Regions from separate parts of the Homo sapiens genome. Here regions 1, 2 and 4 are each linked to region 3. Evidence: fine-mapped expression QTL. A gene starts in region 3. Each other region holds a variant in brackets. All regions are shown on one strand. Distances are from middle to middle. Region 1 overlaps LOC105379301 (a long non-coding RNA gene). Region 2 has its middle 110 kb from the start of NAT2. Region 3 holds the start of PSD3 (pleckstrin and Sec7 domain containing 3). Region 4 has its middle 140 kb from the start of SH2D4A.

What was found.
Region 1: its variant is fine-mapped to the expression of PSD3 in sun-exposed skin (GTEx, PIP above 0.99). The same link has a PIP of 0.9 or more in unexposed skin.
Region 2: its variant is fine-mapped to the expression of PSD3 in cerebellar hemisphere (GTEx, PIP above 0.99). The same link has a PIP of 0.9 or more in cerebellum.
Region 4: its variant is fine-mapped to the expression of PSD3 in fibroblasts (GTEx, PIP above 0.99).

The regions. Positions count from the first base shown.
Region 1 is chr8:19,113,000-19,121,105 of GRCh38, forward strand. The region is part of intron 2 of LOC105379301 (a long non-coding RNA gene); the gene reads left to right. Among named protein-coding and RNA genes, the nearest start is that of PSD3, 100 kb to the left of the region's middle. The variant C/T (reference allele first, on the strand shown) is at 3,299.
Region 2 is chr8:18,494,228-18,502,333 of GRCh38, forward strand. No RefSeq gene overlaps it. Among named protein-coding and RNA genes, the nearest start is that of NAT2, 110 kb to the left of the region's middle. The variant G/C (reference allele first, on the strand shown) is at 4,782.
Region 3 is chr8:19,009,061-19,017,166 of GRCh38, forward strand. It overlaps PSD3 (pleckstrin and Sec7 domain containing 3), which reads right to left and starts at 4,643. Exons shown (of 16, transcript NM_015310.4): 1 at 4,503-4,643. The coding sequence starts at 4,523. It overlaps LOC124901898 (a long non-coding RNA gene), which reads left to right and starts at 4,943. Exons shown (of 2, transcript XR_007060840.1): 1 at 4,943-5,136. RefSeq lists silencers at 4,527-4,626, 4,697-4,786.
Region 4 is chr8:19,166,579-19,174,684 of GRCh38, forward strand. No RefSeq gene overlaps it. Among named protein-coding and RNA genes, the nearest start is that of SH2D4A, 140 kb to the right of the region's middle. The variant C/A (reference allele first, on the strand shown) is at 4,696.

The DNA of each region.
Region 1 (8,106 bases), 100 kb after region 3:
CCACCTTCCCCCGCCCAACTCTCCAGTACCCTTCCCAGCCTCTGGTAACCATCCCACTACTCTCTATGTCCATGAGTTCAATTGATTTGATTTTTAGATCCCACAAATAAGTGAGAACATACAATGTTTGTCTTTCTGTGCCTGACTTATTTCACTTAACATAATGATCTCCAGTTCCATCCATGTTGTTGCAAATGACTGGATCCTATTCTTTTTCATGGCTGAGTAGTACTCCATTGTGTATACATACCACGTTTTCTTTATCCATTCATCTGTCGATGGTCACTTAGGTTGCTTCCAAATCTTAGCTATTGTTAACAGTGTTGCAACAAATATAGGAGTGCAGACATCTCTTCTATATACCGATTTCCTTTCTTTTGGGTATATACCCAGCAGTGGGGTTGCTGGACCATATGGAAGCTCAATTTTTAGTTTTTTGAGGAAACTCCAAACTGCTCTCCATAGTGGCTGTACTAATTTACATTCCCACTTACAGTGTACAAGGTTCCCTTTTTTCCACATTCTTGTCAGCATTTCTTATTGCCTGTCTTTTATAGTAAGCCATTTTAACTGGGATGAGATGATATCTCACTGTAGTTTTGATTTGCATTTCTCTGATGATCTCAGTGATGTTGAGCACCATTTCATATGCCTGTTTGCCATTTGTATTTCTAATTTTGAGAAATGTCTATTCATTATCTTTTGCCCATTTGTAAATTGAATTATTAGATTTTTTCCTATAGCGTTGTTTGAGCTCTGTATGTATTCTGGTTATTAATTCCTTGTCAGATGGGTAGTTTGCAAACATTTTCTCCCATTCTGTGGGTTGTCTCTTCACTTTGTTAACTGTATCCTTTGCTGGATACTTGATGTGATCCCACTTGCCTTGGTTCCTTGTGCTTGTGGAGTATTGCTCAAGAAGTCTTTGTCCAGACCAATGACCTGGAGATGTTTCCTGATGGTTTGTTGTAGTAGTTTCATAGTTTGAGGTCTTAGATTTACATCTTTAATCCATTTTGATTTGATTTTTGTATATGGTGAGACCTAGGGGTCTAGTTTCATTCTTTTGCACATGGATATCCAGCTTTCCCAGCATCATTTATTGAACAGACTGTCTTTTCCCCAGTGCATGTTCTTGGCATCTGTCAAAACTGAGTTCATTGTAGGTGTGTGGATTTGTTTCTTGGTTCTCTATTGTGTTCTATTGGTCTATGTGTCTGTTTTTAGTTTCCTCAAATTTTGGATTCAAATTGTGACTCCTATTTAACTAAGGAATGATGTACAATTCTCAGCACAAATCTAGTGTATTTTACTGATTTACAGGAAGTACTAAAAATAAAATTATTTTTACTAACGGATGGTCTTTATTTCAGTTTATAATATATAGTAGAGTAAATATGAAAGAAATTTCAAAGTAGAGGCCATTCTTTTTCCAGAAGAATCACAGATTGCTGAGGATTTGGGCACCAGCTCTGCTTTCTAAACATTCACATTTCATGAACCTTCCAATAAGGTAGCTAATAGCTATACGTAGCTATTGAGCACATGGAATGGGCCTAGTACAAATTGAGATTATCTCTAAGTGTAAAATACACATTAGATTTCGAAGTCTTTGTATAAAAAATGAATATGTAAAATATTAATTTTTACATTAATTATATTTTGGGATCTTAATGTTTTGGATATATTGGTTTAAAATATATTATTAAAATTAATTTTACTTGTTTCTTTTTACTTTTGTAAATGTAGCTGTTAAAAACTTTTAAATGATAAATATGACTCACATTATATTTCTATAGAATGGCACTGGTCCACACAGCCTTAGTAAAACCTTTCTTTTTCTTTTCTTTTCCTCTCTCTTTTTTTTTTTTTTTTTTTAATATAGAGACAGGATCTCCCTCTGTTGTGCAGGCTGGTCTCAAACTCCTGCCTTCAAGCGATCTTCCTGCCTGGCCTCCCAAAGTGTTGGAATTACAGGCATGAGCCACTGCACCCGCCCAGTAAATCCTTTCTGATACACCCTTAGTACTTCCAACTAAGTACCAGTCATCATTTTCCTTCATTTCATGGGTATGGGGACAAAGAAAATGGCATATTCAGTTCCCAAACTGTCATTTCTGCCAGTCCTACCTAAAAAATTGGTCCATAGCCAAAAAGATGGTCTTACTTCATTTTGACTACGTTTACTATGCTTAAGACAAGGTGTTAGTTATTTCAGTACCCAAAATAAAGCTTTTCAGAATTTGTTCATACTTTTTTTTTAAGAGATGGAGTCTATATCTGTCACGCAGGCAGGAGAGTAGTGGCGCTATCTCGGCTCACTGCAACTTCCGCCTCCCAGGCTCAAGCAATTCTCCTGCCTCAGCCTCCTAAGTAGCTGGAATTACAGGCATGCACCACCATGCCCGGCTAATTTTTGCATTTTAGTATAGACAGGGTTTCACCATGTTGCCCAGGCTGATCTTGAACTTCTGACCTCAGGTGATCCACCCGCCTTGGCCTCCCAAAGTGCTGGGTTTACAGGCGTGAGCCACTGTGCCCGGCCTTGTTCATACTTTTAAGTTCATTTAACTTGATTTGGGGGCACAAAGTTCAGTGGGATGAGAAAGAGAATAGAGAAGGAGAAAAGACAGGGATACCTCGCCCATTTAAATACACTAGGAAATTAAACAATTTTAAATCATCAGATTACGGAGGACTACTTAGATGCTAACATATAATTTAGGTAAAGGTGGATGATAGAGGAAAAGATTCCCCAGGGTAATTACTTGGTTACTGACATATTCACCATGATTCACCAAATCCCACAGTAATTACACTCCTTCTCTTGGGTGTGTTCCTAACAAGAATCTATTAATTTGACTAAACGTCAAATCCACCTCGTACAGGGCACACTGTTGGGGGCACCACATAGAGGTAGCGGCCTCCTGTTTGGCGCTGCTGTCTCTTGCCCATGCTCTATTGTGAAGGGTTGTGGGGGCGACAGAGGACAAAGAAGACGCTGGAGAGGATTTTCCACCGACAGCCTAGGAAGGGATTTCCCTCTCTGCAGGAAGAAGAGGGCAGAGTCTCTTAAATCATCTTCGTGAAGTCCAAAACCCCTGGGAGTTTGAAATACACTTGACCCCATGAGTTTCAGATACAGGGTTGGAATCTTGCTGTGGGCTGCCACAGCTTGGGAGGCAAGGCAAGGAACTGGGCCCTTCATCTACTCACTTACGCTGCTCTGAGCCACTTTCCCAAAGGTTACTTTTTCCCTTCTGTGCTTTATTTGCGTATTCACACAATCATGCCCTAA[C/T]TCGAAGACAACTCAGTGGGTGCTATAATGGTTGCCAGATATGTCTCAGATATTCTGGGATAATGCATGCTGTCTCTCTATGATGTGGGCCAGTCTTTGCAAGTCTATATACAATTATAGTAATTAGATTTACCTTCTCTAAATCTACTAACACAGAAAGAAGATATGTAGAATCTTTTTAGTATAACTGTAAAGAGAAAATGAATTCCATGAATTATGAAAAGAGTAGTGCGTGTAAATATGTGTTCATGTTAAGATTATAACTTATTTTGAGAAACTGTGCAACAATCTAATGTATTAAAAAGTTTATTTATCCTCAAATTTCCTACTAAGAATTATGGTTTAAATTCATTTTCCTGAAAGATTTCAAGGATCTGGGTAGAAATTGGCAATTAAAAATGTAATTAGATGTAATTTACCATAACTAGGACTTAAAAAAAAAACCTACACTGTTTCTTTAACACTTCTAATTATCTGGCTTTGGTGAAAGCATTTATGGTTCCTTTCTTGGAAACCTTTCCTTAGTAACTATTCACATACCACTCCAGATGGGTGTTTCATATTTGTTACTGCTTACTGCCCTTTGTACCTAAATTTCATTTTGCATAAAGCTAGCACATGAGAAAACTAATGAAAAGGATGTATAATTTCTTGTCTCTTAGAAAAATCCCATTTCTTTTCTCCTGAGAGTGAGTGAAATATGTAACTCTATATATAGTTTACAATATGCAGTAATTATATTCAAATGTCTTTCAAATTACTATTTTCTTCTGAGTACTATTGCTCTAGTATAAGTTCAGCACTCTAGTATAGCCAGCTTACATGATACACAAGCCGTAATGTACTTCCCAAATCTTGCATACCACATAGAATTTCTACATGCCAGTCTGTTTGGGACACCCTCATTCCTTCTGCCCCTATGGGACCATCTGAGTCATGACTTGAAAATCCAGATGAGGTTCCCTCATGCTCAGGGTCCCTTGAAAATGCCACGTTCCCCAAAGAAGGTGACACCTGAAGCTACCGCTCCACTTTCAATGGCCAATGACTGTATCCCATTGCTTGGTGTGTGGAGAGCCATATTTCTGAAAGTTCCTTGACTCTGTGACAGGTCTGTCTCATTTTCCCCTTTGAGCTTCCACCTGCAGCCTGAGTTTGCCACTGCTTCCCTGTCTCAATCGGGGTTCTTCCTCCAGCAGTAGATCTGGGAGCAGCTTCAAGAAAGGTTCATCAGACATTTTCTCCTAACACTTAAACCATCTGACACCATCAGATGGGTTTCTGGATAATGAGCTTTTAATTGGCTCATATGTTTTTGAAAATGTCATCTTTTTGCCGTTAAACTTGATTCTCTTACCATTACGTTCTTCTTTTGGGAGTGAATTCAAATGAGGGCTGGTTTAATTGGGTCATCTATCCTAAACCTCCATGAATGACCAGAGAAAAGGCACTCCATGCATAAATAATTTGTTGATGATGTATGAGACCCACGTGCTTTTTTTTTTGTTATTGTAATAGTGTTGTTTTGGTTTTGTTTGTTTCTTTCTTTTTTTCTCTTCTTTTCTGTTTTTTTTTTTTTTTTTTTTTTTTTTTTTTTTTGAGACGCAGTCTCACTCTGTTGTCCAGGCTGGAGTGCAGTGGCGTGATCTCGGCTCACTGTAAACTCCGCCTTCCCGGGTTCAAGTGATTCTCTTGTTTCAGCCTCCCGAGTAGCTGGGATTACAGACGTGGGCCACCACGCCTGGCTAATTTTTGTATTTTTAGTAGAGATGGGGGTTTCGCCATGTTGCCAGGCTGGTCTCAAGCTCTTGGCCTTAAGCAGTCCTCCTGCCTCAGCCTCCCAAAGTGCTGGGATTACAGGCGTGAGCCACCGCACCCGGCCTGTTTCCTTCTTTCTATTAGCTAGTTTTCTTTGTGCCTGAGCTTTACAAGAACATATGAGAAAAGTTCTGCCCTAACTCAGGCACCCTTAGACTGGCCTATCTATACTTTCTTGTGGGTTTTCTTTTGCCACAACAACATCGCGTTCATTCAGCTTGAACAATCGCAATTGCAAACATGGAGCATGTCAGCCGTCGCCCGGGGAGCGCAGTGACCCAAGAACTCAGTTCGACTCTGCTTATCTGGGAGGCCCACTCAGTCTGGCAACAGGAATCCTCTGCGCATTTCTCCTCAACAAAAATCAGCTGTACAGGCTCCTTTATCCATTTATTTTTCTGGATCACAAAGTTGTCTCTAAAGCTCCAAATAATAATTTCTGGAGGATACCTTTTTATGTGGTAATGTTTAATTGGGATATAATTCATATAACATGAAATTCACCATTTTAAAGTGGTTTTTAGTATGGTTAGTTGTTTTTAGTAAATTTGCAATGTTGTACAATCATCACCACTATATGATTCCAGAACATTTCCACCATTCTGAAAAGAACCTCTATACCTGCGAGCAGTCATTTTCCATTCCCTGCTTCCCCCATCCCCTGGAAGCCTCTAGTTTACTTTCTGTCTACGTGGATTGCATATTCTGGATATTTCATATAAAAGGAATCATACAATACTTGGTCTTTTGTGTCTTGCTTTTGTTCCACTTAGGTAACGTTTTCAAAGTTTATCTATGTTGCAGCATGAATCAGTACTTCATTCCTACATGAATAATATTCCATTTATGGCTGGATAGTATTTCATTTATACATACACCATATTTTATTTATCTATTCCCAAGTTGATAGGCATTTGAATTGTTTCTTTTTTTTTTTTTTTTGGCTATTTTGAACTAATGCTGCTATGAACATTTGTGTACAAGTTTCTGTGTGAACATATATTTTCAATTCTCTCATCTATGTACCTAGAAGTGGGATTGCTGGGTCACATGGTAACTCTAGTTTCACTTTTTGAGCAAATGTCAAACTGTTTTCCACAGCACTACCATTTTAAAATCCCAGGAAGAATGTATGAGCATTTCAACTACACAGCATCACTTGTCATTATTTCTGTTTTTAATCACAAGTGTGCAGTAGAATTTTCCATGACATCATTGTTTTATCAGCTCATGGAATGTGTACTTGTGTATTCTCATGTTTCACAACATTCTCAGACTTAATTTATAACATATTTACATCTAATATACATACATATCTCATATATCTAGCTAGCTTGCTAGCTCTCATAAAAACAAAGCCAGAATCTCTTAGGGATTCTCAATAATTTTTGTTTTTAGAGTGTAAAGGGGTCCTTACACCAAAAAGTTAAAAAATGCTCATCTAAAGAGATTAAGCAACATAACTATGTTTTCTGTGACGTGTTTTATTTCTACTATTCTGGAAAGAAAACAAAAGATTTTTTTAAGAGATTGGGTCTCACTATGTTGTCCAGGCTGACCTGGAACTCCTGGGCTCAAATGATCCTCCCAGCTCAGCCTCCCAAGTAGCTGAGACTATAGGTGCACACCACTGTGCCTGGCTATATATATATATATATACATACACACACATATATATACACACACACATATATATATACACACACACACATATATATACACACACATATATATACATACATATGTATATATATATATTAAATTCTAGGGTATACAGTTGCATAGTTGTTTAAAATTCATTAACCTGTAAGAATTGCCCAATTCATAGAATTATGTGAAACTTTTGTAAGATTTGATGCCTTACTGTATTCATGTTATACTTCAATTTAAAAGTAGTTTCAAAACATGGACATTAAATAATTCTGGTGAGGAAAGGAATTAGAAAATAAATAGCTCTGCACTAATCCCAGATAATTGTCCAGGTTAAGATTTTTATAAAAGCATAAGTGATTTTACAAAACCAAATTTTACCTCCCTGCAATTATTATCTCATTCCTAGAGAATCTTTACCTTAGAACTTCCCTCTCAGAAACTAAAGGAGAGAGTATTTCAAGAATGATGGGAAGGTTCTCAAAAATAAAATTCTGCCAGTGTACTGATACATAAACTGGATTGCTATTTAAAAAAACGGAAAAGATTCATGTACAGAATAGAGAAGACAGGACCTGCAGTAAGAAACAAATTCATGAAATTATATTTTTGGTTTTAACCAGCTTGTTCTGTCTGTCTCCTACTCTAACCTGACTTGGACTATGTGACACAGAGCAGCACTTTCCCCAGAAAAAGTAGTTGCTAGAAATAAAGCAAGCTTTAAGTTTTATTTCAGTGACGATCTGGCCCAAACTGATGGTGACTATGTAGAACAGGGCCCTTCCCACCCCTCTAACTTGTTAAATAGTTCTAAGATTGGAGGAGAGAGAGACAAGGAAGAGGAAGAATACAATTAGAAGTAGTGGCTGGGCATGGTGGCTCACGCCTGTAATCCCAGCACCTTGGGAGGCTGAGGCGGGTGGATCACCTGAGGACAGGAGTTCGATATCAGCCTGACCGACATGGAGAAACCCCGTCTCTACTAAAAATACAAAATTAGCCGGGCGTAGTGGTGCACGCCTGTAATCCCAGCTACTCAGGAGGCTGAGGCAGGAGAATTGCTGGAACCCGGGAGGTGGAGGTTACACTGAGCACAGATCGTGCCACTGCACTCCAGCCTGGTGACAGAGGCAGACTCTGTCTAAAAAAAAAAAAAATAGACGTAGTGTATGGACCATGTGCTCTGCCCCCATCTCCATCCTCCAGAAGAAATTGGGAGTGCCCAGTGAAATCTTTTTTAAAATTTGAGGATCTGAAGGAGAGAAGACCTGGGTTATAGCCTAGGGTAAGAAATAGCCAGCCTTGAGAGAATGCTTACCCCTGCTCCATGCCATTCTGGT
Region 2 (8,106 bases), 510 kb before region 3:
CATTTTTTTTTCCTTTTTTGAAACGGAGTCTCACTCTATCTCCCAGGCTGGATTGCAGTGGCACAGTCTCAGCTCACTGCAACCTCTGCCTCCCAGGTTCAAGTGATTCTCCTGCCTCAGTCTCCTGAGTAGCTAGGATTACAGGTGCCTGCCACCACACCTGGGTAATTTTTTGTAATTTTAGTAGAGACAGGGTTTCACTATGTTGGCCAGGCTGGTCTCAAACTCCTGGCCTCAAGTGCCTACCTCGGCCTCCCACAGTGCTGGGATTACAGGCGTGAGCCACCATGCCCGGATACGCTATATAATATCTATTAACCTCCTAGAGAGGGTTCTTCTAAATGTTAGTTTGGGAAATTCTGCCTTATCTCAAAGGATGAGGATTGAGGCTGGCAGGCATTCCCCATGAAGTGCTGAGTCCTGGGTTAGACAAAAAAGCATGCATGCAAGACCCAGGCATCCCCTAGTCCTCAAACTGGGCATCAGACAGAAACCAGCTATGGCGGCAGAGCAGAGAGGGGAGCCAGCCCTCTCCCAGGTCTCCCAGCCAATCCTCGCTTAGCCATACGTCAGCCCAAAGGATAGTTAGCCCTGACTGCTGATTCTGGAATACTAACCTCAAAGGTTTTGGGTTTCAGATTCAGATAAGGAAGAAAAAAGAAACCGAATCATGAAATTCAATGGGAAAACAAGTAAAAATAAATAGATAAGTTTAAACTTTTACAGCATTTACATGATTAAACAAATGATGTTCATTGTAGTTGGTGATATTTTCCATACATAACTTATCAAGTAACAATCCAGTAATCTATAACTTCATTTAAAAGAATTAAATACAGATATATATATACATACATATAATATAGATAGATAGATAGATAGATATAGATAAAGTGAAAAGGTTTATTATGAGAAATAACGTAACAAAAGAGAATGTGCCTGTTGTTTCTTTTCCTCCTCTCTTAGTGTTTTTTTTCCCTGGGAGACCAAGTAACAACATGGGAGTGAGCTGATAGATGCTGATCTGAAGAAGTGGTGACCGTGCCAGTTAGCAATTTGTAAACGCCAGGCGGTGGCAGGTGCTTAATTATAATTGTACAAACTAACAATGTACATATTCCAGTTATTTTTAACTCAGTATCCTGAAATAATTGTAGACTCATAGGAAGTTGCAAAAATAATACAGAGAGGGTCCTGTGTACCCTTCACCATCCTGATTCCTGCAATGCTAACTGTACAGTACAGAATACAGCACATCAGCAAAAAGCTGCTAACTGGTCTATAAATCTTATTAAGATTTTACCACTCTAGGCCCGGCATGGTGGCTCACGGCTGTAATCCCAGCACTTTGGGAGACTGAGGAGGGCAGATCGCCTGAGATCAGGAGTTCGAGACCAGCCTGGCAAAAATGGTGAAACCTTGTCTCTACTGAAAATACAAAAACCAGCCAGGCATGGTGGCAGGTGGCTGTAATCCCAGCTACTCGGGAGGCTGAGGCAAGAGAATCGCTTGAATCCGGGAGGTGGAGGTTGCAGTGAGCCGAGATCACACCACTGCATGACAGAGACTCCGTCTGAAAAAGAAAAAAAAAAAGATTTTACCACTCTAAAGGGGAAATTGGAGTTTTCTTATTCTGATTTGCTTTGGTTTATTTCTCCTTCCTCTTCAGAAATACTCACTTCAGGGACTACAGGTACAATGCCAGACAGACCTGCAAAACTGCATTGTTACCTAAATTTTGACCTTACATCCACAAGGAGTCTTGGGGACAGAATCCAGTTAACTCCACCCAAATTTGGCTCCAGCTTTGTTTATATCTAAATGCCTATGAGCAGCTCAGGAGTTTCCTCAGCTAGAACAGGCGAATTCTGATTATCAGAATAACGATATTCTGGGCTAATATCATTGTAATGACTTGGCTTTTAAGGCAGTTTCCCTGTATATGGGGACACGTGGAGGCTGGAAGGCAAAAAAGGGCCCAATTTTTATCCTTCCCTGAATCACACCCTCTGCAATGTAACTTTCTCCTACCATCAAGGGGTAGCATCTATGGCCCATCTCTTGAATTTGCACTGGCCCTGCAACTTGGGTAGGTCAGTGGTATGTGAAGAAGTAACAGGGAGCCAGGCAGTTCTGAGCCCAGACCTCAAGAGGCTACAACTTCTGTACTTCTTCTTGAAGCCCCGCAGTCCCCATATGAACAAGGCCAGGCCAGCCTGCTGGAGAAGGACCATGAGGAGCAGGGCCGACACAGCCCATCTGAGGCCACCTTCGATCATGCAGCTGACAGCAGATTGCTGAACCAGCCCCGCCGAAAGCAGCCATGCCTAGCCCAGCAATAAACACCTCACCAGCCCATAGACTTGTGAAACTTATTTTGGTAAGTTACTGGTTTTGCGATTTTAGATAACTGGTACAGGCAAAGACTTACTTGAGTGGGGTACAGAAATGTGCAGATGAAAGAGGAATGAGTTTTTAGCTAAGAGCTGGACTAGCCAGGTTGCTCACTGGAGTTCATGTGACTGTCATGAACACCCCAGAACAGCAAATCAGTTGTGAACTAAATGTTTACTGCAGGCTGAAAATAAGAATGAAGTGGGAGGACCCCAGTGGTCCTTAGAGCTAGCTGAAAGGTTTTCTCCAGGGAAGAAAGAAAGTTTATACAAGGGCTTTTACGCTGGCCTTATGCTAGCCCCTGAGAGCCAGGAAGAAAAGAGCGAGCAGGAGACTGCTGAGCTATAAGCAGGGGGAAGCTGCATGGCTCCTTGGGGCTGGGGAAGTTTTCCTAGGGTAAAGGGATTTCCAGCCTAAAGGTAATAAAGCTTTTATCTCTCTTGTCTTGAGGTTTCATGCAAACAACAAATATTTGTTGAATGTCTACTGTTTTCATTGCACTCACCACTGCCCTTCCTCATGTCCTGTGCAGCGATTGGCAAGCAGTTTCTGCCTTCAAGACTCAGTCTAGTGAGGTGCTACCAGAAGTCTAGACAGGGAGCCAGGCTGGGGTAAGGCCCTACTGGTAGTGGCACCGCTGGAGGGGATGCAGAGAAAAGGCAGAGCCCTCTGATTACTTTCACTGACTCTCATGGTCTGAGGGCTGTTGGTAAAGTTCCTATTGAACAGAGAATGCAAAATCCTTTATCGTATGGTCATGCAAATTATTACTTCAATACAGAGCATTCAAACAAGTATCAACAAGGCAAAGCTTCCATGACCAATCACATGGAGGGACCTCCAGGTGTCTGGCTGCAGGGCCCCTTGGGGGAGAGGCAAGCATCCAACACGGACACTGATCCATCAATACAAGCCGGGATCACACCTCCTAGGGAAAGTGAAGGTGCTCTGAGCACATTGAGGAGCAGAAAAGCCTAGTCAGAAAAGACTTCCCATGAAACTGGCATTCAAACACATATCTGAAGGATGAGTTACTTGGGGAAGAGAGGGGATCCTTCAGGAAGGGCACAGAATGAGCAAGACTAAGAGGTGGAGAGGTTGTTAGGAGAATAGCAGGATCAAAAAGTATAGCCGTGAAGCTGGACAGAGAGTTGGGGGAGCCCGGTGGGCTCAGTCAAGAATATTTGGTCTTAGGCCAATCACACCTGTAATCCCAGCACTTTGGGAGGCTGAGACAGGAGGATCACTTGAGCCCAGGAGTTCGAGAGCAGACTGGACAATGTAGTAAGATGCTGTCTCTACAAAAAATAAAAAATTAGCCAGGCCTGATGGCAGGCACTTGTAGTCCCGGCTACTCAAGAGACTGAGACGATGATCACTTGAGCTCAGGAGTTCAGGGCTGCAGTGAGCTATGATAGCACCAATGCAATCCAGCCCAGGAACAGAGCAAGACCTTGTCTCAAAAGAAAAAAATAAAAATAAAAAAATGGTCTTTATTCCAAATGCAGTGGGAAGACTTAGAAGGGGAATCACCATCACGTCAGTTTGAACCATATGAAATTGACATTTTTGCTGGTCAAAAATGACCAACGCTGGCAGTTTTATATGGTTCAACCTAATACAGGTTTGAGCATCCCAAATCCAAAAATCTAAAATGTTCCAAAATACAAAACTTTTTCAGGGCGGACATGATGCTCAAAGGAAATGCACGTTGGAACATTTTGGATTTCAGATTTTCAGATCTGAGATGCTCAGCCAGTAAATACAATGACAATACTCCAAAATCTAAAAGTCCAAAGTCCAAAACACTTCTGGTCCCAAGCATTCTGTTCTATCCTCCATCTGTATTTCGAAAAGAGTCTTCAGCCCGACCCTTCCAAGGTTGACTATTTGTTGTTGGTCTTTTAATTCCAAGGTGATTTTCTCATTTCCTTTCACAGGCAAGTCAAGCCTTGGCACCAACAGAGCAGGGAGTGAGAAGTGTGGGGGCCGAGGCCAGATGGGCCCTGCATCCTACTTTCTGGAGCAGCAGCGACACTGTCATCTTGCTCACCTTTCTTCACAGCCTGCAGTGCCCCACGTGGAGGTGTGGGCTCACCAGGGAGGACTCTCACCTCGGACAGCTGATCCCTGTCCCCTGTGCCCAGGGACATTCTTCTTGCCAGGAGTTGATGAGTTCCCAGTGGAGGTGGAGGACTCCTAAGCTTTTCAAGGGATGGGCTCAAGTAATACAATGCCCCCACACACCCAGCCATCGGCGGCCCCTCATTCTCAGCTTTCAGTTGCTTCTGTGTATGCGAGACCAGAATCCAGGTCACAGCTCAACTGGACATCATGGCACTGACATTGTTCATTTTCATTTTGGCAGCACGCACAGAGCTGTTCAA[G/C]AGAAGGTCACAGTGAGATCATATAAACCAAATTTAGCCATCTGGGTACAAGGAGAGACTTAGGTGATTCGTGTCTGATAAGGAAAACCAGACTTTCACAAAGCATCCTTTAGTGGGAGCCTTTTAGAAACCCCAGAGATGACACCTGTCAAACTTCACAGCACACTTGGGCTTGAGGGGACCGGAGAGTGCACAGGCTCCCTGTGTAGATGAGACCCCGAGGAGATGGTGGTAGTTTTCTCATCTTAGACTAACTCCTACATCCCAGAGTCCCAGAGCACTTTATGTTCTCTGGTCACACGTTGAGGGAGGCAGTTTTAAACTAACTGGAGCAGAGGGGCTGGGGAAGGGCTTAGTTCACTTCCACTCATGGTCTGTGCTCACCTTGAAGTCACACCTGGCACTAAACCATTTTTGTAGAATAGGTGCCCCACTCTGCCACACGTTAATCCTGAAACTAAACAAGAGATTTGGTTGAGTATGGTGGCTCACACCTGCAATCCCAGCACTTTGGGAGGCCAAGGTGAGCAGTTCACCTGAGGTCAGGAGTTGAAGACCAGCCTGGCCAACATGGTGAAACCCCATCTCCACTAAAAATACAAAAATTGTCCAGGCATGGTGGCGGGTACCTGTAATCCCAGCTACTTGGGAGGCTGAGGCAGGAGAATTGCTTGAACCTGGGAGGCGGAGGATGCAGTGAGCCGACGTTGCACTACCACACTCCAGCCTGGGCTACAGAGCAAGACTCCATCTCAAAAACATATAAATAAACAAACAAGAGATTTGGCAGGGGTGGGGTGGAAATCAGGAAATCACACACCGGATAGCAAAATCTCACACAACTTTTCTTTCAATATCTCTCCTCATTTCCTGAAGACCCTTCCACCAAAATCTATCCCATTATTTCTTCCCCCTCTCCCACACAGTTCCTCAGATCACCTCCAACTGCCACCGCCCACTCAGCAAGGCAGAAGCCAGACATGTGGCCTCCTCATCTTCATTCTCCATCCTTGGAAGCCACTTAGTGAGGAATTGAGAGAGATGGGGTGGTATGGGATGGGGACAGGGGGAGTTTGATTTATCAAGTATTCACTCTCCAGTATTGGCCTCTTCTTAGAGGAGAGAATTTAAAATGTCCTATATTACTATTATTTCCCATATTATAATATTATTAGTAGTAGGCCAAAGAAAGCAGACTCAAGGAGACAAAAGGACAAAAATTTCAGTGTACAAACACAATCAAATAAGCATTAAGTGAGAACTGTTCACGGTCCAGGGTGACTTTGAAAATGGCCTCTTCAATGACAGAGGAAAATGAAGTTATCGGGAAAGCCATCACGTGTCACACACCGAGATTCTGTGACTGTTAAATTTTAATACGTTCGGTGCAAGGAAAATTGAAATTTCTGAAGAAAAGAAAAGCCAAAGGGCAAAGAGAAGAGAAATGAAACCAGCCTGGAAGTGGGGGAGTGGAAGCTGGGGGTGACACGAGGCCCTGGCACCATGACCTCTTTCTTGTAAGGGAGATAGACGTGCTCTCAATCACTGTGGGCGCAACCAGGGGGTCATGCCTTTGAAAAATGACAAAAACTACTGAAACTAAGGGGAAAACACAGAGCGAAGGCAGTTAACTCTCAGTTGTTCAAGGGCTGATGCTGAACTTGGGAATGATCTAGACTTTGCCTTTCTTTCTCCTCCTTTCCTGAATGTTGGCAAACTCACTGCTCACAACCACCTTATCCTGATGTTGAACAACCCTGCACCTAGCACATTAGTTAAATATTAGCATCTTTGATTAACGTTCTAGAGAGCCAGGGAAGAGTGTTTAAATTTTCAGTATAGCCATGAATTTTTGACAAATTTGAGAACTGACTCCATAGGAGTGAATGTGCTATTCCCAGGAACCCACACCTTGACAGCCGAAGATCGGCAACGCAGCTATTAAGTTCTGCCTTAAGGAATTCTCACCATCAGCGTGGAAGGAGATGTCCAGAAAAAAATGTGGGGGGATTAGGATCGTGCCAAGAATAAAAAGGAAAATACAGATAACATCTAACTACTTTTGTAGAGGCCCTTCCTCCAAATGTTGCACCACTTTCCCCAATACCCAAAGAAAAAGATTTTACTTGGGGAAAAAAGTCAGCAGCAGCACACACAAAAATGACCACACCACAAGGTGCAAGCATTAAAACCACGAAAAACGTTAATGTATATGATTGAGAACACAACTGAAATAATCAGTAACAAAATATTGATCACCTCGTCCGGGATCTGATAGGTAAATGGTTGAGTGAGTCGCGCCAGCCCTCAAAGAGTTTATAACTGTGTTGTAGGCTGTACAAAAAGACTAACACCCAGGAAGCAAAGAGTATTTAGGACAGAAGGTCATTGCCAACGAAATTGTTTCATGCCAATTGTAAGTTGCTGTAGTCCAGGGGCAGGGGTGGTTGATGGGGTTTTCTAGGCAATAAAGGGCTCAGCTTTGATTGGTGAAAAGAACAAAGGCCGGTCAAGAAAAGAGGGGAAGGAAATTTAAAGTAGAACAGCCGAATAGAACATCAGATGGGGGCTAGATACAGCTCCTCTACTTCTAGACAAGAAGTAATTACCAAGTAAAGAGAAAGCAGATGCTTGCCCGTGGACATACAGAAATTAAACACCCTGCCAGGTGCAGTGGCTCACACCTGTAATCCCAGCACTTTGGGAGGCCAAGGTCGGAGGATCACTTGAGTCCAGGAGATTGAGACCAGTCTGGGCAATGCAGTGAGACCCCTCAAAATTTTTTTCTCAAAAAAAGATTTAATTAGCTGAGTGCAGTGGTGCTGGGACCCCTGTAGTCCCAGCTACTCTGAAGACTGAGGTGGGAAGATTTCCTGAGCCTGGGAGGTCAAGGCACTGTGGGCTGTGATTGCACCACTGCACTCCAGCCTGGGTGACAGATCAAGAGCCTGTCTCAAAAAACAAAAGACAATGAAGAAAATAAATTAAACAACCAGCTAAGTCTCACTCTCCAGAACAATCTTTTTGGAAACTGAGGATGGAGGTGGAAAAGAAAGACCTTTTGTGGCTCTATTTTAGCCTACCCAAGAAAAACAATCTCAGCACTTCAAGTTTCTATTGAAAAGAAGATCGCTGAGTTTGGTTATCCATCCTCAGAAGGAGAGGATGGGACATCATAGTTTTGAGCAATGGTCGCCTCATTGGAAAAACAATTACTGCCATGAAGATCTGCACAACAGGAACTTATGATAATAGCACCTACTACATGGAGTGATTGAGAGGACTGCATGGAGTCATTTCTCTGAACTTTGCATCTTCCTCTGCA
Region 3 (8,106 bases):
TTGTGAATTCCAATTAATGACACATAACTACGTGGAACTCCTTACATGTGGTCCTACAGAGATCCTTTTAGACACCCCAGGGGTTTTGTTGTTGTTGTTTAATTACACCATTTCTATCTCTTGAGCCAAACAACAAATCTGGTCCCACTATTAAGCCAACAAATGTATAATGGTCGGTGATGAATTAGTCATCCAATATTCAGATTCCAAGACTCGAATAATCTAAATATTAGAGCCAAAGAGCTCAGTTTCTGCAACACGCAATGCTAACTTTGAGACATAAAAACAGAATGGTGGTTAAGAAAATTGGATGACCTGAGTTTAAAGTCTCAGCTCTGCCACTTACTCACTGTGGGATCTTGAGCAGGTTCCTTAACCTCTCCTGACTTCAGAATGGAAATAATGACACTACTGACCTCATGGGTTGTCATGGGGAATAAGGGAGACAACCCAAGTAAGAACTCAATAAACATTAGCTGTGATTGTAAAAACGCCCCATGCCAGGAAAATATCACTCGAAATAAGCGTTTTCCAAAAGTTAGGACTTGGCCGGGCCTGGTGGCTCATGCCTGTAATTCCAGCACTTTGGGAGGCCAAGGAAGGCAGATCACCTGAGCTCAGGAGTTTGAGACCAGCCTGGGCAACACGATGAAACCCCGTCTATACTAAAAATACAAAAATTAAGCTGGGCGCAGTGGCGTGTACCTGTGGTCCCAGCCACTCGGGAGGCTGAGACAGGAGAATTGCTTGAGTCTGAGAGGCAGGGGTTGCAGTGAGCTGAGATCGCACCATTGCACTCCAGCCTGGGTGACAGAGTGAGATCTTGTGTCAACAACAACAACAGAAAAATCAGGACTTAACAAGAAACTTAGAAAATGCTGCTTTCTCAGAAGACCCGTGTGAAAATACCATGTAAGAAAAGAACACCAGCTTAGGTCAAAATGTTAATTTTCCCAGTTATCCTAAATCCCTAACTCCAATAATAATCTTTTAAAAATATCCTTCAACATGTATAAATTATTCTGATTCATCTCACTGATGTACACTCAGAGGAAAGGGAATTTCAAACCAGATGGCTCAGGAGTGAGTGGTCCTCAAGTAAGCCTCAAGGAGTGAGTGGTCTGCCATGGCCGCAGCCTGACATGCAGGAAGGGGAGAAGAGCGGGCGGATCCCTCACACCACCGGTGTCACCAAGAGAGAAAATGCTCTGCCACCTCTGTGCCCTGATGTGTCAACAAAGTCCCTCCCCACTAGGCACCAACTGGGCCCAAGTTTGTTGACCTTCTGGGCGCAGTGAAAAACCTTTCTTTTGGTAGAGCAAACAAGCACTGCAGGGACATGCACTGTTTTTATATAAATAAGATAGCACACGCAAAGATTCATTATTAATGTTGAGTTATGCCTTATTTTCAAATGAGGCATGGACATTTGGTAATTTGGATTTAAGAATAACTTGTTAACTATATGCTGCAAATTATCCTTTTTCTCCATTGTAAATTGCAACAGCCACTACAACACTACTTAATTTGGAGCTTGTGAAAAATGTCCTTGAAAGATGGTCAACGTAACTCAGAAACACTCTTTGAAAAAATAATGCCACCACTTAAATTCTTTCCAGCAAATCCCTGAGTCTGCATACAATATCACAAACAACACAAGCTGTCAAGATATGGGCACTCCGAACAAATGCTCTGGAGAATTTCACATGGATCCTGTACTCTCCTAAATGAAAGCCAGGCTGGTTTAACTGTAAAAGAACTAGGAAGAACTGAGAGGCAATATTCAAAGTGAAAACACTTCCACTCTTAGCAAAGGGAAGCCAAGGACCTCTGTGCTTGGCCCAGACGGTCCGGGAAGAACCCCTAAATGGTGAGAATCACAACAGCAGTAATTCAAGGTCACACTAGATCCCCAGCCTCCTATAAGCCTGATTCACATACTAAACTCCACAGACTTTGGTCACCAGATTATTTTTTACAGTCTGACCCAACTTCAATCATGTCTGAATTCCTTTCCAAAAATTGGAAACGATCACTATCCATAACTCACCTCCCAATCCAACCCAAACCCAAAGACACTCTTTTCATAATGTCCAAATGACATTACCCCATGTAAACCTCAAACAAACCAGTCTTTAAGCCAAAGCAGATACACATTTTAATATTCACATGGTTTTGCCTCAGCATCTCTTAACCAAGACTGCAATTAACCTATCACCACACTGGTGTCTTAGTTTATGAATAATGCATGACAAATCACACCTGAATTTCTATAAAAGAAAAAAAATCACCTCCAAAAGTAGTAGTACCATGGACATGTTTTTTCAATGTAATGCCACGCTAAATTCCACTCAAATAATTTTCCATCAGGGCTGGCAAACAAATATGTAAATATCAAGGTTTTAGAAAGAGGGCAGAGCCATTGACTGAAAGTACCTTTAAATTTTTCTTTTTCAATGAGCTACTTCCATCTTACTTTATTTTTTTATTTCCAAATTCCCAAGATTTACTAGCCTGTAAGAATTTCCAAGGTTACTCAATTTTTTAAATTACTAGTATCTGATTAAAAGCAGAATTGAATTGCTTAAGTGCAATGTACATAATAAGGTATATGTTATTCTTTGGTCACAAATGAACAGTGTCAACAAAACTTTCTTTAAAGAAAACACACATTAAGATTGGCAAATCAAGCTTCTTATGCTCGCATTTAAAAAAAAAAAAACAACAACAACATTCAACCACGGAATTTGGCCGTAATAAGGTTATTTTAGCTTTGTAGCTCTAATCACTCTCCCACATTCAATGGTCAGGATAAGAGTGCTGATCCATTCACAGAACACACAAACAGATATTTAGAATGTGAAATTAAGAGTACATCACTGAATAAGTAATGCATAAAACGTGTCTAGGCATGGAAATATCAAATGGTAGGGCTAGAAGGCTCTGAAAGAGCATCTACCTAATCCCCTCACCCTACCAGGAAACTGTAGCGACAGAAGTTAAATAATTTGCCCAAGACGGTGGCAAAAACTCACCCAGTCAGTGGCAAAGCCTCTAAGCTAGGTGTCCTACCTACAGATCCAAGTCCCTTTCTTGATACCACTCTACTCCTTTTAGTACAAAAAGCTTCTATTAATGAAATATCTTACAAGACAAATCACTTGTGGATGGATATAAAAAGGTTGTGGAAGGACATCCAGCCAGCCACTAAAAACTGGTTGAAAAGGTGCTAATTTATTTTGCATTTGCTTAACTGGTGATGTTGAGCATGTTGCACTTTTAACTGCTGAAGAGGAATTTCATGACTTTTTGAAAAGAAAACCTCTTGGTTTGTAAATACTCTCAGAAAAGAAAGGATCATTTCTTGGAAAAGGGTAGAAAGTGAATTCCCTTTCCTTTAGCAGGGGACATCCTTTCCCTCACATCTCACAAAAATCCAATCAACCCCTCCCTTTCAAGGTCCAGCATAACTGCCAGCTCCTCTCTGAGAACTTCCAAGCCCGGAGGCCAGAAGCTTCCTCTGAGATCCTCCATGGTAGCCTACGCATAAGTCTCTCCCAGGCAAGCTCTCAAGCACGCTTCTTGAAAGCAGAAATCCTATCCTACTTACCTAGCTACCGGGCTTTGCAAAATCCTTTGCACATACTCAATTACAACGAACGCATTGAGGCATTTGTTGCCAGAATCCCACTTACAGTAATTTTCCAGATCTCCGTCTTCCCTACACCAACACCTGGACCCACTCAAGAGTTATTCTGGAGCGGAAATCCTGGATCCCGCTATCGGGAGAACCAGTGTCTAGAAAATGAAATCGTGGTGCCCATTCCATCCTCTGCCTAGTGGGCGTTTAACATCCTTTGACATCGAGGGGAATGGCAAAACGAAACATTTATTATTTAGGTCACCAACAACATTCTAAACCCACGTCCTCTAATCGGTGTTAATGTGTTTAAAAAAAAAATTCAGAACATCATTCGCCAGAACGGAAAGCTGAAAACGGCGGATAAAGTTAAATGCATGTAAAACAGAATGACTTAAACATCTGTAAAAGCTCCTGGGAATTGCACCGAATAATCTTCCCTTGTCCGTTTGCTCGCTCAATTCAAGTTTGTTTAGTTTAGTCTTTTTTTCTTTCTTTCTGACAGAAACGTGATAGTCCCTAAATACAAGCTGACCGGGCAAAGAAAGATCGGCATACGAGGTCCTCTTTCATGTTGCCTTCTTTTGATAGCTTTTCTCCAAAGTCTGAGGTTTTCAAAGCCGAGGTATGAACTAAAACCCCTAAACCTTAACACCACAAAGTTGACCCTGCTGGGCTCCTAAAAAACACAAAGCAAGCAAGCGCGAAGAGAAAAATCGCACCCTGCACCTATCCAGACAGCACAAACCCAGGTGGCCCCGGGATCCTGGGGGACAGAGCGGCGACAAAGCAACACAAACCCCACGTCGAACAGCGGCGCCGCGTGCGCACCCCGCGCCCGCGCCCCGGCCCCGGAGCTCACCGCTGCGCTCCTTCCTTCCATCTTCCATCGCCAGCCCGGCCGCGCGCCGAAACCGCCGCCGGGCGCTCCGGGGCCGCAGCCTCAGGGCGCGAGTGCCGGCGGCCAGCGCCGCGTGCTCTTTGTTGAGCTCCCGGGACTGCCGAGAGGCGGCGGCCCGCGCGCACCCTGGCGGAGGCTGGCGAGGCTGCGAGCCCGCGGCAGCCGCCCGCCCGGCCCCCAGTAACGTCAAAGCGAAGGCGGCGCAGGCGGGCCGGCGGTGGCGGGCCCCGGGGGCGGAGGGCGGAGGGCGGAGAGGCGGGGCCGACGCCTCGGGGAGGGGGGAGGTGGCTGGGCCTCCGAGGCGGGGGCGGGGTCTCCAGGGCAGGGGCGGGGCCTCCGGGGGAGGCTGGAGGCGATCCAGACCCTCGCAGTGCAGCCCTCGAGCGGCCCGGACCGTCCGCTGCCTCCCGCAGCCGCGCGCCCGCCCTGGGCCCAGCCTCCAGCCCGCGAGCGAAAACCTGCCTGTTGCTTTGTCTTCTTCCTTCACAGTTTTCCCACCCTGAGAAAAGTGAGAGGTGCTTTCCCTGGTGTTTCCTCTCAGGAAGGGCCGTGTGACTGGAGCCGCGAGTTGGGCGCCGTCTCGCCGGGGCTGGAGGTACGCGGGCTTCGGGACACGCACCTAGGCGTCCCTCGGGGTCCCGGCCTCTCTGACCGGGCTCCCCCGGCACCGATCCGCGGCCGGAGCGTTTAGTCCCGGGGACCCGTCGAGCCCTGAAAGGGCCATTTCCCCCTGAGGCGAGTCCCCCCAGGCGCCCCGCAGCCTGGCCTCGGGACTGCCCCCACCGACAGTGCGTGCGCGGGGAGAGGTCACTTAAAACTGCATTTTCGAACATTAGTGCCCCGGACCCGCACCTTTTTTCCTCCGTCCTTTGATCTGTGCCGCAGAGGCAAGGGCTGGAACGGCGCCCTCCCCTGGTAGAGGGACGGAGAGACCGCAAATCTTTCCCCCTGGGAGGTCCGTTAAGTAGATCCAAGCACCTGGAGGCGGAACCTGTGTGGCCGGCTACAGGGTGGTCCTGTGTATGTGTTACCGCCTTATTGTTCCAAAGAACAGTCTTTTTCAAGTGACAGGTAGAAGACGCCCCAATAACGAGAAGTGACTGACTTGGCCAAGCTTAGAGATGGGAGTGGAGTCAGGTTCCCTGGTGGCCCCACGATCTCGCCCACCATGTCAGCATGGGCTGCCCGGTGAGCATAGCTGAGATGCACCAAGGCCACATAAGTCACCTACTTTGCCTTGGCTGCCCCATCTGCATCTATCAAAGGAAGCCTTGGACACCCACCAGAGGAGCCAGCATGAGGGAGTGTATGCCTTTATACAAATTCACTCCAACTTCAGAAAAACGTCCGCAGCTCATGCTCCCCCTGCCAGAGCAGCAGTGTGAGCAGCTGTGTAGGTTTGGAAGCACCCCAGTCACTTGGGCATTGATATGGTTTGGCTGTATCCCCACCCAAATCTCATCTTGAATTGTAAGTCCCGCAGTTCCCAGGTGTGTGGGAGGAACCTTGTGGGAGGTGATTGAATTATGGGGGCGGGTCTTTCCTGGGCTGTTCTCGTCATAGTGAATGAGTCTCACGAGATCTGAAGATTTTAAAAATGGGAGCGCTTGTTGCACAAGCTCTCTCTTGGCCTACTGCCATCCGCTTAAGATGTGACATGCTCCTCCTTGCTTTACGCCATGATTGTGAGGCCTCCCAACCATGTGGAACTGCAAGTCCAATAAACCTCTTTCATTTGTAAACTGCCCAGTCTCCGGTGTGTCTTTATCAGCAGTGTGAAAATGGACGAATACAGGCATATTTCTCGTTTGTGATCTCCCTTTACCCTTGCGTACATACCCTACAGAGACAGTCCCAGTGTGCCTATTCCCAGTCAACTCCTGCCTTCCTTGACGGTTTTGTTGGCAAAGCATCAAAAGTAAGACCCAGTACAAAATGTAGTTGCTACCCTGAGGCTTGACCACTGGCCTACTGGCCTTTACCTGGGAAATTAACCAACTCATAAACAAACAAAAAAAAGTAATCATATAGGAGGCAGGGTGGACATAGATTTACTTGATATTTCTAGTTAAGGGACTTGGGCATAGACATCTATAATCTGAGCCTCTGTTTCCTCATTTATAAAATTGGGTTAATAATGCCATACAGAAGTGTTATTAGCATGATAAATTAAGGAAAGCTCCTGGCCTATAGTGAATGTTCAATAGAGGAGCATTTCATAAGTGAAGCCACAGAAATGTGTTTCCAATTTCCATCGCAAAGGAAATTTTTAATTGGTTTTATCCCTGAAGCCAAAATATTTTAAGATTGTACTTATAAAGCTGATCACATCTATTAAATAATCATTCATTCGTCCAGTTATAAATAATCAAAGATAAAATGGTTAGAGGTTCTGATCAGCATAAATTAGCCAGTGTTACCACTACTAAGTCAATGAAGCCTAAAGCAAATCAAATAAACATTGACATTTCATTTTTGCCAGCATGTATTTTGTGTGTAAATATTTTGTTAGGCTTTTGGAAATATTAAAAATGAAGTAAGAATCCCCATTTCTGCTACCATAGCCCCCAGTGCTCAAGTTCAGTGTCAGAATACACAAGCACCCGCCTTGGTAAAAAAAGAAAGGAGGCACGCAGACCACCTAGGCATGGGCTAGTGTATATTTATCCAATAACATATTCCTCCCCCACCTCTTCCCATGAGCCCTAATGTATGTGGTGTGGAGAGACTATATAGTAGGCAAGACATTATATACTGCAGGTCAAAAGAAGAAAAGGAAGATGAAATTCCATCATGTATTATTCATGCATACAGTTAATCCTTCCTATTTCTGAAGGTCACTGAAAAGCCCAGATTATTGAATATTTATTTTTTAGTACAACATGAACGTTTATTTAGAATGACAAAAATCTCAAATACAAATTTCTAAGAGTTGACAAATCCCACAAACATTACCAAATCCAGAAAAATCACACAATAGTTTTATCTACCACCTACATAATATTTTGTAGTAATAAACTTCCTAAAACACTTCAGTAATATTTGTCTTCACCTGTTTTCTGCTGCTATAAGAGAATACCACAGACTAGGTAATTAATAAAGAAAAGAAATGAATCTCTCACAGTTCTGGAGGCTGGAAGTCCAAGAGCACAGCAACAGCACATGGTGAGGGTGGTTCCATGGTGGAAAGCATCACATAGCAAGCAAGCACAAGAGACGGGAAGCAAATGGGGTCCAAACTTATCCTTTTGTCAGAAGCCCATTCTCTAGATAACTGACTCACTCTCTTAATAACAGCATTCATGAGAGCAGAGCCCTTATGACCCAATCACCTCTTAAAGGCCCCACCTCTTAGTCCTATTACAATGGCAATTAAATTTCAACATGAATGTTGGCAGGGACATTCAAGCCATAGCAATACTTTTTCCTCAAGTATTTTGGCTACATACTTTTTTTTTTTTTTTTTTTTGAGACAGTATCTCACTCCATTGACCAGGCTGGAGTACAGTGGTGCAATCACAGCTCACTGCAGCCTCTACCTCCCAGACTCAAGTAATCCTCCCAC
Region 4 (8,106 bases), 160 kb after region 3:
TGCTGAATGCAAAGGCTAAGTGGGAGATAAACTCAAACAACAGGGCCAATATTTTGTATTTTGTGTGTAGGTACATTGGGGAGTTTACTGTATTTAACCTTCTTTCTTCATCTGCCTTGAGGGGATTTAAATTGTTGCCAAAGAAATGAATGCCAAAAACAAGAAAACATTAGCAGTCAAATTCTAACATTCAAAATAGAACTTTTCATTACAAAATCAGCTTGAGAGCCAGGCACTATTGAGATATGATGTGAAGGAAAGAACGGGCTAGGCTTGGCTGTCCAGACCACAGAGCTTCACAGTACAGCCAATCAGGGAGAAGAGGAGGAAAGCCCCTTTCTCTTCCAAGGGATTGTGGGAATAAGACGGTTGGCAGAGATGGTTGTATGTGTGATGGACTTGAGAAATATTGGAGGATGGAGGACTTAGGAGTTTGGCAGGGGGTCCTGGGACAACCTTGGTATCCCAGGATAAAGCAAAGGGCAGAGCAGCCAGTTCGGGCAGAGGAAGGTTCCAATCTGCCCTCCTAGGCTTCCCACACCCAAGTCATACAGCAGGGATGCTAAGTTAGGGACAGCATCATTGCAGGAGTGCTGGGAGTAGACCACCTGAAATAGGGGGAAGAATGGAGAACATACAGCGTCATGGAGGAGTCTACACCTTGGGGGACTAAATAAGCAAGAAGATGATTCCTGAGTTGAGAAAGAGCTAAGTGTGAGTCAGTGGTGGTAGGCCCCAGTAGAATGCAGGAACATCCTCTCTCAGCTGGGGAAACAGAGGGTGAGAGAGTGTGGCATGGATCGAAGGACCCTGTGATCCTCCATCAGAGGTAGGCCATCCTCCCTCCTTGTCTCTGTAAACCCCAGAGGGTAGAATTGGGGGCATGCAAGTAAACAAACTTCCCAAAGACTGGATGTTGTCAATGAGATGCTTAAATTATTGGAACAAACTCAGTTTGCAAAGCCAAAGTAAGTTTGGTTACTTTATCTCTCAGAGAAAGAGGGATGGAGGTGGTAGTTGTCAATTCATGAGGAAGCCCAGAACAACTACAAACAAGTTAAAGGGACTACACTCTTCCTACATGACTGAGTTATGGTAGTACTTAGAAAAAAAAAAAGGTCTTGCTGTATATAAAAACTGTTAACAATTATCAGAGGAGTGTGCACCAGAGCAACTCCATCTTGAATAGGGGCTGTGTAAAATAAGGCTGAGACCTACAGGGCTGCATTCCCAGACGGTTAAGGCATTCTAAGTCACAGGATGAGATGGGAGGTTGGCACAAGATACAGGTCATAAAGACCTTGCTGATAAAACAGGTTGCAGTAAAGAGGCTGGCCAAAACCCGCCAAAACCAAGATGGTAATAAGAGTGACCTCTGGTTGTCCTCACTGCTACACTACCATCAGCACCACGACAGTTTACAAATGCCATGGAAATGTCAGGAAGTTACCCCATACGGTCTGAAAAGGGGAGGTGCTAATCCACCCCTTGTTTAGCATATAATCAAGAAATAACCATAAAAATGGGCAATTAGCAGCCCTCAGGGCTGCTCTGTCTATGGAGTAGCCATTCTTTTATTCCTTTACTTTCTTAATAAACTTTCCTTTCACTTTACCCTATGGACTTGCCCTGAATTCCTTCTTGCACGAGATCCAAGAACCCTCTCTTGGGGTCTGGACTGAGACCTTTTCCGGTAACATAATGAAGCACGGAAAGGTTTGTAGTAGAATAACAACACTGCTTCCTATATGTCAGACGCTGTCCTCAGCAGGTTATAGCTATTAATTTATTTAAGGCTTACAACATCCCTATGACAGGTGCTATTATTATCACAGTTTAGCAGATGAGGAAACTGAGACACAGAGAGGTTACGTAACCAGGCTCCAGATCACATAGCTGATAAATAACCGAGGTGGGATTGAACCTAGGTAGCCTGGCTCTCAAGTTCATGCCCTTAACCTCCGTGCTACACATTGCATGGAGGCAATACAAAGATGAGAAGACCCACTCTGCCATTTGCAGAGGAAGCGCTGTTGGGGGTTTGGCCTCAGAGGTGGGGAAGGGAAGCAAAAGGGTGAGAAACAGGAGCAAAGGCACTGAAGCCTCAAGGCACACACATGCAGGGAAGAGCAAGGCAGTAGACTCCTAACGTGCAAAGGGATTCGTCTGCAGGGCTGCTAGAATATTCTATCCGTGAATACCACTATGGCTGCTGCAGCGTAGCACATTTGATACCCAAGATTTCTTTGTTCTGGCTGAGAACCAAAAGTTCCTAACACTTCCATGCTTTGACTTAACTTCCACTTCATGATCATTTTGTAAAAAGAAACACCTTTTATTACTTTATGAGAATGCCCTAACGATGAATATGAAACAATAAGGCTCAGTCCATTGAGAAGGCTTGAAGCCAGCGAGGCTCACTCACTAGCTGGGTGACTCACAGCTCATACCCCTCATACGTCTGTAATATGAATTCATGCCTCAGCAGAGCGGCTCACAGATAGACAACACCAGGAAAGTGAAATCTGGGAATGTGAGGAGCCTACCATGTCCTGCGGGCTGGACCACACGGTATGGAGGAGAAGAGGAGGAACGGAAGCTGGCAGGTCAGCAGAGGCTGAGTTCTGACAGGCCTCGCATGCCCAGCTCAGGAAGACATGGGAGTCAGAGGAAAACGGGGGCCAAGAAAGGACCTGTACAGCATGGTCATTCTCTCGATCTAATGATTCCGGATAGTTTTTCTTTCTTTGAATATTTTCCTCACATTTATTGGCTTCACATTTGTGTTTCTTATTTTCTGAATTTTCAATTTTGCCTTTGTTCATTGAATATTCATATGTTAAAACACCTTTAAAGATGCTTTTGTATTAAAATATTAACCGATATACCGTGAAAGTTATTGGAATTAAAATGGAGTGACGAATGTTAAGAAAATCCTGAGAAAGGCCGGGCATGGTGGCGCACGTCTGTAATCTCAGCACTTCGGGAGGCCAAGGCGGGTGGATCACCTGAGGTCAGGAGTTCGAGACCAGCCTGGCCAACATGGCGAAATCCCATCTCTACTAAAAATACAAAATTAGCCAGGTGTAGTGGGGCACACCTGTAATCCTAGCTACTTTGAAGGCTGAGGCAGGAGAATCACTTGAACCTGGGAGGCGGAGGTTGCAGTGAGCTGAGACCGCACCAATGCATTTCAGCCTGGGCAACAAGAGGAAAACCCCATCTCAAAAAAAAAAAAAAAAAAAAAAAAGAAAAAGAAAACAAAATCCTGAGAAACAGAGCCAGGGGAGGCCCTGGAAAGTGGGTTCTCATGCTTCAGTGTGTGATAACAAAAAAGACTACAAAAACCACAACCTTGCACAAAGGCCATCACAATCTTACACACAAAAAAATACTCCTGCAAGAACATCTGCCCAGCAACTGGCCTCTCCAAACTCAGACTGGCGTCACCCTTGTTATTGATCTTTGTAGCCAAGGATAATGATTTCAAAACAATTATGTAATCCTCCTCATTTTTCTCTTTGGAAACCTTTGTCTTTCTTTACCTCCCTGAAAATGCACATAGTTCACTATGACATGCCTATTCCCATTGCAAAGCTCTATTCTTAAGTAACATCTCCTCTTTTAGAGAGGCTCTGCGATTTAGGTTGACAATATGTTGTGAATATTTTGCTCATTGTGGTGTGTTATTTACTTCTGAAACTTATTTAAACTGCTTTTTATATGAAAAGTTAAAAAAAATTATGTGGCCAAGTCTATATACTTTCCTTCATGGTTTCCTTCTGGTTTCTTATATTATTATTTTCTGAGCAGAAAAGCAAACCTATGGTTTTTTATGTCTGCCTCATGGTTCCATTACAGCTTAGAGGTTAAGAACTCAGGTTCTAAGTCCAATGAAGGTGAGGTTGAATCCTGGTTCTGCTCTCCACTGACTGTGAGCCATTTTTCTTCCTATAGTTTCCTCTCCAATTTTGAGCCAGGCACTCAATAAACCAATGAGAGACATAGTCTCTCCATTATGCAGATGGAAAAATTAGTATTTAGAGAGGTGAAGTTAATTGTGCGGTAAGTGGGAGTTAAAATTGGACACGAGTTTTCCTGTTTTTAGAGGCTGGGCTCTTACCAGTTACACTTATTCTATACTCCCTCACATGGGACTTGATTGTTACAGTCCTTTACTATCTTGTAGAATAAGTTTTGCTAGCATTTTGCTTGGGGTGTTCACATTTATGGTCAGAAGTGAGAAGATAGTACAGTTTGTAGGAAGTCTGCAGGTAGTTTGAACAGTTTATAGGTAGTTTGAACAGTTTGTAAGTAGTTTGAACAATCTCTGGGCTCTGGCTAATATTCAGAACCTGGTGATGTCATCTGAAGCCTTAGTTATCATATTTGGCCCATGTCAAACACCACACTGGACTACATGCCCTGGCTTGGCACACAGTCTCTCTAACGAGACTTACAAAGAAAAGGGGGCTGAAGAGAGAAGAGAGCAGACTGGCTTAATCAACAGTATTTAGTAGTTACCCTCTCTGTGAGGAACAAAAGTATGCACTGTAAACGGACACTAAGAAGATTCTGCTCCCCTGGGCTGCTTAAAGCAGGAACAATGATGTCAGGCGATGGTGTGAGTTCAGTTCAGAGCATGTTTTTAAATTAGCATTTAAGTTGATTAGAAACAGCTGGAAAATCAGAACG[C/A]TTGCATAACCTCTGCAATGATGCAGAGGGAAAGAATGCCCACTGCACAACCACAAGTTACCATCCTGAGTTGTTTTAGACAGGGAGATAATTCGCAGTCATTGCAAATTATTTTGCAAGCCCCGAACTTTTGGTCCCTTAAGTGTTCATCTTTATGTCTGTTCAGATAATATTGCTGCTCACTGCTGACTAGAGTCACAGCACTAAATACAAAATTAACACCCATTTCGTCTTTACGAAGTGTTTTTTAAAAGTATTTAAATCAGTAAGAGATTCTTAACAATCAAATATAATTCTTTTCATTATTAAGTCATGGGCAGATGAAATAGAATATTCTCCAGAGAGTTGAGGAGTCAGATGTAAATCTCAGCCCTGAACATATAGGAAGAAATGTAAGTCTGGGTGAGCAGCACTGATCCTGGGTCTGCTGCATCCTGATTTGCCTCCATCCTGGTGGCAGTGACGGTGGCCTATGCCCAGCCACCAAGCTCCATCCCCAAGGCCAAGCTCCACTTCCTAGGCCAGGCTCCATTTCCCCAAAGCCAGACTCCACCCCCAAAACCAAGCTCCACCCCCAAGGCCAAGCTCCACTTCCTAGGCCAGGCTCCAGTCTCCCAAGGCCAGGCTCCACCCCCAAAACCAAGCTCCACTCCCAAGGCCAGGTTCCATTCTCCCAAGGCCAGGCTCCACCCCCAAAACCAAGCTCCACTCCCAAGGCCAGGTTCCACCCCCATTCCCTGGAGCCCCGCCTCCCCAGCCTGCCTGGGCAATTGTCCAAACTCTAGCCTCAGATCCTTGATTGAGTCTAGTGTTAGTTTCACTGAGAAATTGGAATATTTTGCTGGTCTTTTCTGTTCTTCATTTGTGTAGTGCAAAAAATAATCAAAATGCTAGGTGTCAACCCTACAGAGCCACTGTCAGAATAAATAGAGGAACCTCTGATTTGTTTCAAATAAAACAATTTGCCTTTAAATGAAAATGATTACTGCTTAAGTATAAAATGGGAGAATACAGAAAAAAGGCAGTAAAATAACAGAAAAAGGCCGGGCACAGCGGCTCACACCTGTAATCCCAGCACTTTGGGAGACCGAGGCAGGCGGATCAATTGAGGTCAGGAGTTTGAGACCAGCCTGGGCTACATGTTGAAACTCTGTCCCTACCAAAAATACAAAAAGGAAAAATTATCTGGGCATGATGGAGATTGCTTGTAGTCCCAACTACTCAGGAGGCTGAGGCAGGAGAATCACTTGAACCTGGGAGGCAGAGGTTGCAGTGACCCGTAATTGGGCCATTGCACTCCAGCCTTGGCCAACGTGGGAGCCTCCTGCTCCGGGAAAGGAAGGGAAGGGGAGGAAAGGGGAGGGGGAGGGGAAGGGGAGAGGAGAGGGAGGGGAGGGGGAGGGGAAGGGGAGGGAACGGGGATGGGGAGGGGACGGGGAGGGGGGAGAAGGGACGGGAGGGGAGAGGGGGAGGGGACGGGGAGGGGAGGGAATCTATAATCCCACTGCCTCTAAACAACCACTATTAACATATTGTCATGTTTTATGCCTTTACCCTGGCATAAAGTAGTTTGTTCTGTGTCTCTCTTCTCTCTTTATGCCATTCTTTCTCTGTCTCTTTTTTGTCTCCTCTCCCCATATGTTCTGCAAGAAGTCTTTATCTTTCAACCAGAGGCCACTGAGTTAATTTTCACTCACAGAGAGGCCAGAGAGGTAAAAGGGGAAGTACGTACAGCAGGATCCACATTCCTGAAAAGTCCATATCTGGCCGTGGCCTTGCATCTCCACAGGCCCTCCCAGACCCCACCAGACCTAGAATCTCCATCAAGTTACTTCTGTTAAAAGAAAAACCTTAGACAAATTAAATTTAACACAGGTTAATTGAGCAAAGAATGATTCACAAATCGGGCAGCCCCCAAACAAGAACAGGTTCAGAGAGGCTTCATCACAGCCACATGGTCCCAGAAAATTCATGGACAGGAAAAGGAAAGCGATGGAAGGAAAAAGGAAGTGAGGTACAGAAACAGGCGGATTGGCTACAGCTTGCCATTTGCCTTATTGGAACACAGTTTGAACAGTTGGCTACCTCTGGCCGAAACTGTGACTGGCACAAGAGGAGGGTACAGGCTCTTTACACATCCAGTTAGGTTACAATTCACTATGTACAGAGACACTTTAGGCCAAACTTAAAATATGTAAAGAGGCAGCTTTAGGCTAAACTTAACACTTCTTAATTGCCCACAACTGCCTACGTAGAGGGCCACTGACAATTATCTATGGGCAGCGCTGAAAGCAATGGATGGGACACAGAAGGACATATTTTATAGGCATCACCACTTTCTCCATGGCTTTTGTTTTTTTTTTGAGATGGAGACTTGCTCTATCGCCCAGGCTCAAGTGATGTGGCACGATCTTGGCTCACTGCAACCTCTGCTTCCCGGCTTCAAGTGATTCTCCTGTCTCAGCCTGCCGAGTAGCTGAGAGTACAGGACCATGCCACCACGCGCAGCTAATTTTTCGTATTTTTTTTTTAGTAGAGATGAGGTTTCACCACGTTAGCCAGGCTGGTCTTGATCTCCTGACCTCGTGATCCGCCCGCCTCAGTCTCCCAAAGTGCTGGGATTACAGGTGTGAGCCACTGCGCCCAGCCTTTCCATGGCTTTTTGGCCCAAGATGAGCTCCACAAGTTCTAAGTGTTGTATCCAACCCCACCCCCACTCTGCCAGTATCTCTTAAACTACCCTATCTTGATAGTTGAATTTCTTTTTCTATTGGTGTGGCAGAGATGGTTATAGCTTAGCAAATATTCCATTCGCTAGTCAACCATCCCAGCTCTTCTGTGGTTAGGTAAGACCATGTGACAAAAGCTTTCTTCCCTTCCTGACTTGAGGCCTGTACTCCATCCAGATGGTGCAGCTACAAGACAGCCTGTCAAGGGTCCATGTGGAGCAAAGACTGACCCACATGGGACATGGAGTGTGTGAGGGAGAGAAAGAGACTTCTGTTGAGCTTTTGAGGTGTGCGGTTTGTTTATTATTGAGGTACACTCTAGCATATTTTGACAAATGCAATTGGAGAGGCCCTTAGATGGTGCTATACTCTGATTTTTAAATCTCCCTAAAATATGGATGTGATCATATTATTTTCTTGTTGAAATATCATCAAGAGCTAGCCATTATCTAAATGATGAAACCTAAATGCCTTACCCTTGCAGGTAATCTGGTCCCACCATTAATCTGGTGTTCTGCGTCTAGCCTATATCCTAAATTGCAGCCACATTGACTCCTAAGCTATTTCCCAAACACTGGTTTTCGAATATCCCAGTCCTTTAAATGGTAGTGATAGGTGTGGTACATGCTGTTCTGTCTGCTGAGATGGCCCTGGCTGCGGTTCTCCGCTTGGCATAGTCTCA